Regions from separate parts of the Homo sapiens genome. Here region 2 is linked to region 1. The links come from fine-mapping of genetic effects on gene expression. A gene starts in region 1. The other region holds a variant in brackets. All regions are shown on one strand. Distances are from middle to middle. Region 1 holds the start of LINC02721 (long intergenic non-protein coding RNA 2721). Region 2 overlaps LMO2 (LIM domain only 2).

What was found. PIP is the estimated chance that this variant, and not a neighbour inherited with it, causes the effect.
Region 2: its variant is fine-mapped to the expression of LINC02721 in lung (GTEx, PIP 0.96).

Annotation. Positions count from the first base shown.
Region 1 is chr11:33,820,776-33,823,695 of GRCh38, forward strand. LINC02721 (long intergenic non-protein coding RNA 2721) reads right to left here and starts at 1,599. Exons shown (of 3, transcript NR_183773.1): 1 at 1,219-1,599.
Region 2 is chr11:33,857,680-33,860,599 of GRCh38, forward strand. It overlaps LMO2 (LIM domain only 2), which reads right to left. Exons shown (of 6, transcript NM_005574.4): 6 at 897-1,896. The coding sequence ends at 1,677. Among named protein-coding and RNA genes, the nearest start is that of LMO2, 33 kb to the right of the region's middle. RefSeq lists a silencer at 300-473. The variant T/C (reference allele first, on the strand shown) is at 1,791.

The DNA of each region.
Region 1 (2,920 bases):
TTACTTTTTTTTTTTTTTTTTTGAGATGGAGTCTGGCTCTTGTTGCCCAGGCTGGAGTGCAATGGCGTGATCTCGGCTGACGGCAACCTCTGCCTCTCAGGTTCAAGTGATTCTCCTGCCTCAGCCTCCCCAGTAGCTGGGATTACAGTCATGCACCACCACGCCTGGCTAATTTTGTATTTTTAGTAGAGATGGATTTTTCTCCATGTTGGTCAGGCTGGTCTTGAACTCCCGACCTCAGGTAATCCACCCACCTCAGCTTCCCAAAGTGCTGGGATTACAGGCTTGAGCCACCATGCCCGGCCCCTCATTCTTGACCAGAGGTCTCAAGATGAGTGACCTACATCTGCCACATCGTTTCTTCTTTGCCCACTTGATCTGCACAGCTGGCTACAGCCCCACACTGCCAGGGCCAGCCTGTTCCTTCCCCTCATGCTGCTGGGTGGCTCCTAAAGGGCAGTGTGGGTGCATGGGTTGTAGGACTGTACAGTCGTAGATTCAAATTCCAGCTGTGCATGTGTCTGGCTAAGCCACCTGGTGCTGGTCACTTTCTGTTTATGAGCCTCGGTTTCCTCATCCGTAAACTTGGGCAGATAGTAGTTCCTCGCACAGAGTTGCATAGAATTAATGAAATAATGCATTCATGTGCACACTATGTGTTCCCCATGGTCATCCTGACCCCGTTCTACTTCTTAAAGCCCTCTCCGTACTAGAACTTCAGTGACGCTGCACTAGCTCAGTGTGGCTTACAGCCTCTCTTTTGTCCCTCTTAACGCACTGAGGCCGGCTAACATTGATGGAACCCTTCCTATGAACCAAGCAACATCCCGCCATTTTACTTTATCAATTTATGTAGCTTTTGCTATAGATACTATAATAGTACCCACTTAACAGATGGAGGTATTAAGGCACAGGGAAGGTGATAATGACCCAGGAACACACAAGCAACAAGGGACAGAACAAATCCCGGCAGTTTGGCTCAAGCCCCCATGCTGTCTCCAGTTCTCTGAGTGATCCAGGGTCTTTGGCTTCTCTTTCCTCCTCAAGCAACTCTCTCTTTCCCTGATCATTTATTCACACAACTTGGTGCGTTTATTTCATAAATCTCAGTGCCCGACTCACTTCGCCCTTCTCAGTTTGCCCTAAACCCCCCAGACTGGCTGGCCACCTCCTCCTGACGCCCTGCCTTCATCTCAGGTCCAGAGAACCCAAACTTACGTTAAGCTCCTTCCTGTCTTTGAGGAATGTGATTCTGCAGCTCTATCAGCAAATTTCACTCAGCCCTACGAGGCAGTTTCTTGTGAGCTTGCCTGTGTCCTGTATTAGACAAGCTACCAGAAGACAAGACCCTGTCCTTGTGTGCCAATCTCTGCCTCCGGCATTGTAAAGGCAGATGAAACTCTCTCTCAGATCATATTCCCTTCCCATTTCTGTTTCTGCTCAGGGAGCTATTATGTGTACTTTCTTCCTGCCTCTGAAATTCTTCCCTTGCCTCATGCCACCTGACATCCGTCTCTCACATCCCATCCCCTCTGGTCAGGGCTGACTTCCAACCTTCTCAGATTCCTCACAGTTCCCCCATTCCAACTGCCAACTGTCACCCTGGCCCCAGCCTGTCACTGCTTGACCATCATGATGGCCACCCTACCTTCCCCTTATTTTTATTTTTTAATTTTTGTGGGTACATTATAGGTGTCCCCCCATATATGTATTTACAAGGTCAGGAGATGTTTTGATACAGGCATGCAGTGAGTTACGATCACATCATGGAGAATGGGGTATCCATCCCCACAAGCACTTATCCTTTGTGTTCCAAACAGTCTATTTATGCTCTTTCAGTTATTTTTAAATGTACAATTAAATTATTATTGACTCTAGTCACCCTGTTGTGCTATCAAATACTAGGTCTTATTCATTCTTTTAAACTATTTTATGTACCCATTAACCATCCCTACCTACCCTTCACACCCTCAGTATCCTTCCTAGCCTCTGGTAATTATCCTTCTACTTTCTATCTCCATGAATTCAATTTTTTTTTTATTTTTAGATCTCACAAATAAGTGAGAACATGTGATGTTTGTTTTTCTGTGCCTTGTTTATTTCATTTAACATAATGATCTCCAGTTCCATCCATGTTGTTGCAAATGACTGGATCTCATTCTTTTTTATGGCTGAATAGTACTCAATTGTGTATATGTACCACATTTTCTTTATCCGTTCATCTGTTGATGGACACTTAGGTTGCTTCCAAATCTTGGCTACTGTGAACAGTGCAACAACAAACATGACAGTGCAGATATCTCTTTAATATACTGATTTCCTTTCTTTGGGGTATATACCTAGCAGTGGGATTGATGAATCATATGGTAGCTCTATTTTTAGTTTTTTGAGGAAGCTTCAAACTGTTCTCCATAGTGATTGTACTAATGTACATTCCCACCAACAGTATACGGGGGTTCCCTTTTCTCCACATCCTCACCAGCATTTGTTATTGTCTGTCTTTTGTATAAAAGCCATTTTAACTGGGGTGAGATAACATCTCATTGTAGTCTTGATTTGCATTTCTCTGATGATTAATGATGTTGAGCACGTTTTCATATGCCTGTTTGCCATTTGTATGTCTTTTTTCGAGAAATGTCTATTCACATCTTTTGCCCATTTTTGATCAGATTATTAGATTTTTTTTTCTCCAGAGTTGTTTGAGCTTCTTATATATTCTGGTTATTAATCCCTTGTCAGATGGGTAGTTTGCAAATATTTTCTCCCATTCTGTGGGTTATCTCTTCACTTTGTTGATTGTTTCATTTGCTGTGCAGAAGGTTTTTAACTTGACGTGATCCCATTTGTCCATTTTTGCTTTGGTTGTCTGTGCTTGTGGAGTATTGCTCCAGAAATTTTTGCCCAGACCAATGTCCTGGAG
Region 2 (2,920 bases), 37 kb after region 1:
GGCCACCTTAAGCAGTCAAATTTCCCAACTACTTGTAGCATTTTACAGACCAAGAGAGCCATCACTTCATTATTTCTCCTCTAGAAGAAAAAAAATCATTTGTCTCTCTGTCCAGGGATTTAAAAAAATTAAAAATAACAAAGATCACAAACCTTAGGAAGATTTAAAGGAATCTTATAGTTAACATGCAGCCTTAGCTGCATGTTTCTTGTGTCTTAATAACTGAACACATTTAGACTTCTTGCATTTCCGAGTACTCTAAGGAAATCATTGAAAAGCATATTCTTCTTCATCTAGGTTTGTCCTACGTCGGGACCCTCCTGGGCTAGCGCGCTTTAAGGTGATGGCCAGAAGGTGGCGCTCTGCATCAGTTCATGGGGGCGGCCTGACTCCGGGGAAGGCAAACACACAAACCAAGGTGCCTGCTTTAAATCCGCAAAGTAAAGGTCCTCTTAACCACTTGTCATAAAACACCCTGAGACACCCGTCTTGGAAAATCGAAGTGTCAAGCTCAGCATCTTTGCCACATTTCAAACTAGGTAATTACCTTCTCTCCCAAAGGGAATCTGCTTTATGTATTTGTGTCCTTTCTAGGTTACAAGTTTCCCAAAGGCAATGATCTTGCCTTCCACTCACTCCATACAATGCTGAAGTGAAATGCATATTGTACAATAACAATTTAATTATTCTACATTCCTCTGAGCTACATGATGACCTGTTACATAATTGCCAGTAATATAGAAATGTGCCTGCCTCATACAAACCCTTGCAATACACAGAAGTTTTTATTTGACCTAAGAGTAAATTGCTTATTTGCTTCTCCTTTAGAAAAGAAAAAGCAGAGCATTTCCCCGCCATCCCAAATTATAAGTCGTAATCAAATAAACAACACTGTATTTCAGTCTGTCATTTTTATTAAGCCTGCAGAGCTGTTTTTTTTTCTACACACGACAAATACTTTGATATAATCTAGGATAATAAAATAGTTGAACAACTTTTTAAGATTTATATTTGTATAGAAACAATCTGTGGAACTCCTCCCCTCAAAATGAAGGTGTCTAAAAACAGTGATTCATCAGCATTGCTTTAAATAATTGTTTGGTTAAAAGTTGTGGTTTCCATTCTCAACCGAAATGCGTCTCCATGCAGTTTTCCTTGGGTCCAAAGCTTAAGGCCTTGGGAAGGGGGCCAAGAAAAAAAGAATGGCCACTCTCCTTTCTGTCCTTCCCTTGTGTGGAGGACAGTGATTGAAACAGGGGAGTTAAAAAGCCAGGAAGAAAAGAAATCAATTGCACATCTCTAGTTCGCAAGCGTCAAAGTCACAACAAGTCTGTACACAACAACTCTCTATCTGTAGATATGAAATTCCATCATGATAGCACAGCGCCTGCTTGCCCCTAAATGTTCCTTTCTTCTGCTAATCATGTCAGTTACTATGGATGGGCTGTGGCCATAAGTTCTCCCTCAAGGGCTGGTCCTTCTGTCACCTTGAAGTGTCAGCCCCTGAATTATGCCACTTGGATGCTATGTCTTGATACCCAATAAAGGTCTACCATCCCCTAAGAAATCCCTTACCCCACCCTCAAACCCCCAAAGTGCCTAAGAGTGAAGACGAAGATGCCATGGAGACGGCGTCTTCAGTGAACACCTCCCCAAAGATGCCCGGGGACTCGGGCCTATATCATCCCATTGATCTTAGTCCACTCGTAGATGTCCTGTTCGCACACTATGTCAGAGTTGATGAGGAGGTATCTGTCACCTACACAGAAATGCTTCTGACAGGCGGCGCA[T/C]TTGAAACATTCCAGGTGATACACTTTGTCTTTCACCCGCATTGTCATCTCATAGGCACGAATCCGCTTGTCACAGGATGCGCAGAGACCGTCTTGCCCAAAAAGCCTGGGGCAAAAGAAAGAAAAGCTAAGAAGACAGTGAAAGGGACAATCCTGGAAGACAGGGCTCGGGGATGAGCCCTAGAAAGGAGGCCGAACTTTCAGGATGTCAGGAAGCCAGGGAAGGTCGGCTCCAGAAGGAGGGCCGGCTAGTGCAGTCTTCACCAGCAGGCAGAGGGAACTCAGATGAAACTGGCATTTGGATCTGGCATAACTCCTCCCTTTTCTGAGCCCTCTCCTTGTCTGCAGCAACCGCTCATCATTCCCCTAGGCTGCCCCCTGGCTCCTCCTCTGTGGGCAAGGCTCTCAGCTGATGTGATCTATCATAAGGAGTTAGGCAAGTATTACCTGTCCCCTCCCAGGGGAACCCTCATTTCAGAAGAGCAGCTGGAGAGAGACCCTAGGGGCCCCTTTGAGAGGGTACTGACCAGGAATGCAATAAAACGGGCATTCTTCTGAGGCTCCCAAACTCTATCATGTCAACAGCCACTGATTCTACCCATGGGGAGAGCTGGCCTTGAATACCTCCATAAGCTGCAAAGCACATCTCCCCCTGATTATTCGCTGGGGCCCCAGCTGCTGGGAGACAGGGAGTTCCACAGAAAACACGCGGTGCAGCTAATCGTGCCTCTGAGATATGGAGGACCAACAGCATCTCTCCACCATGAAGGGAGGATCTTAATTCATGGCCCTCGCTGCCCACTGGCATGAATCAAAAGGGAAACTTCTTTTCTGACATTTAAATCAAGACTCTCCCAAGCCTCAGTTGATCAGTCACTTATTTCAGGCAGTATTCAGTGTCAAGGTGGGAGACAGAACATGGCAGGGCTCAGTGCAGTGGTTCTCAAAGTGTTGGTCCTGGGACCAGCGACATCAGCACTGCCTGGGAACCTGACAGAAATACAAATTCTCAGGCTGGGCGCAGTGGCTCACACCTGTAATCCCAACACTTTGGGAGGCTGAGGCAGGCAAATCACTTGAGCTCACAAGTTCGAGACCACCCTGGGCAACATGGTGAAACTGTGTCTTTA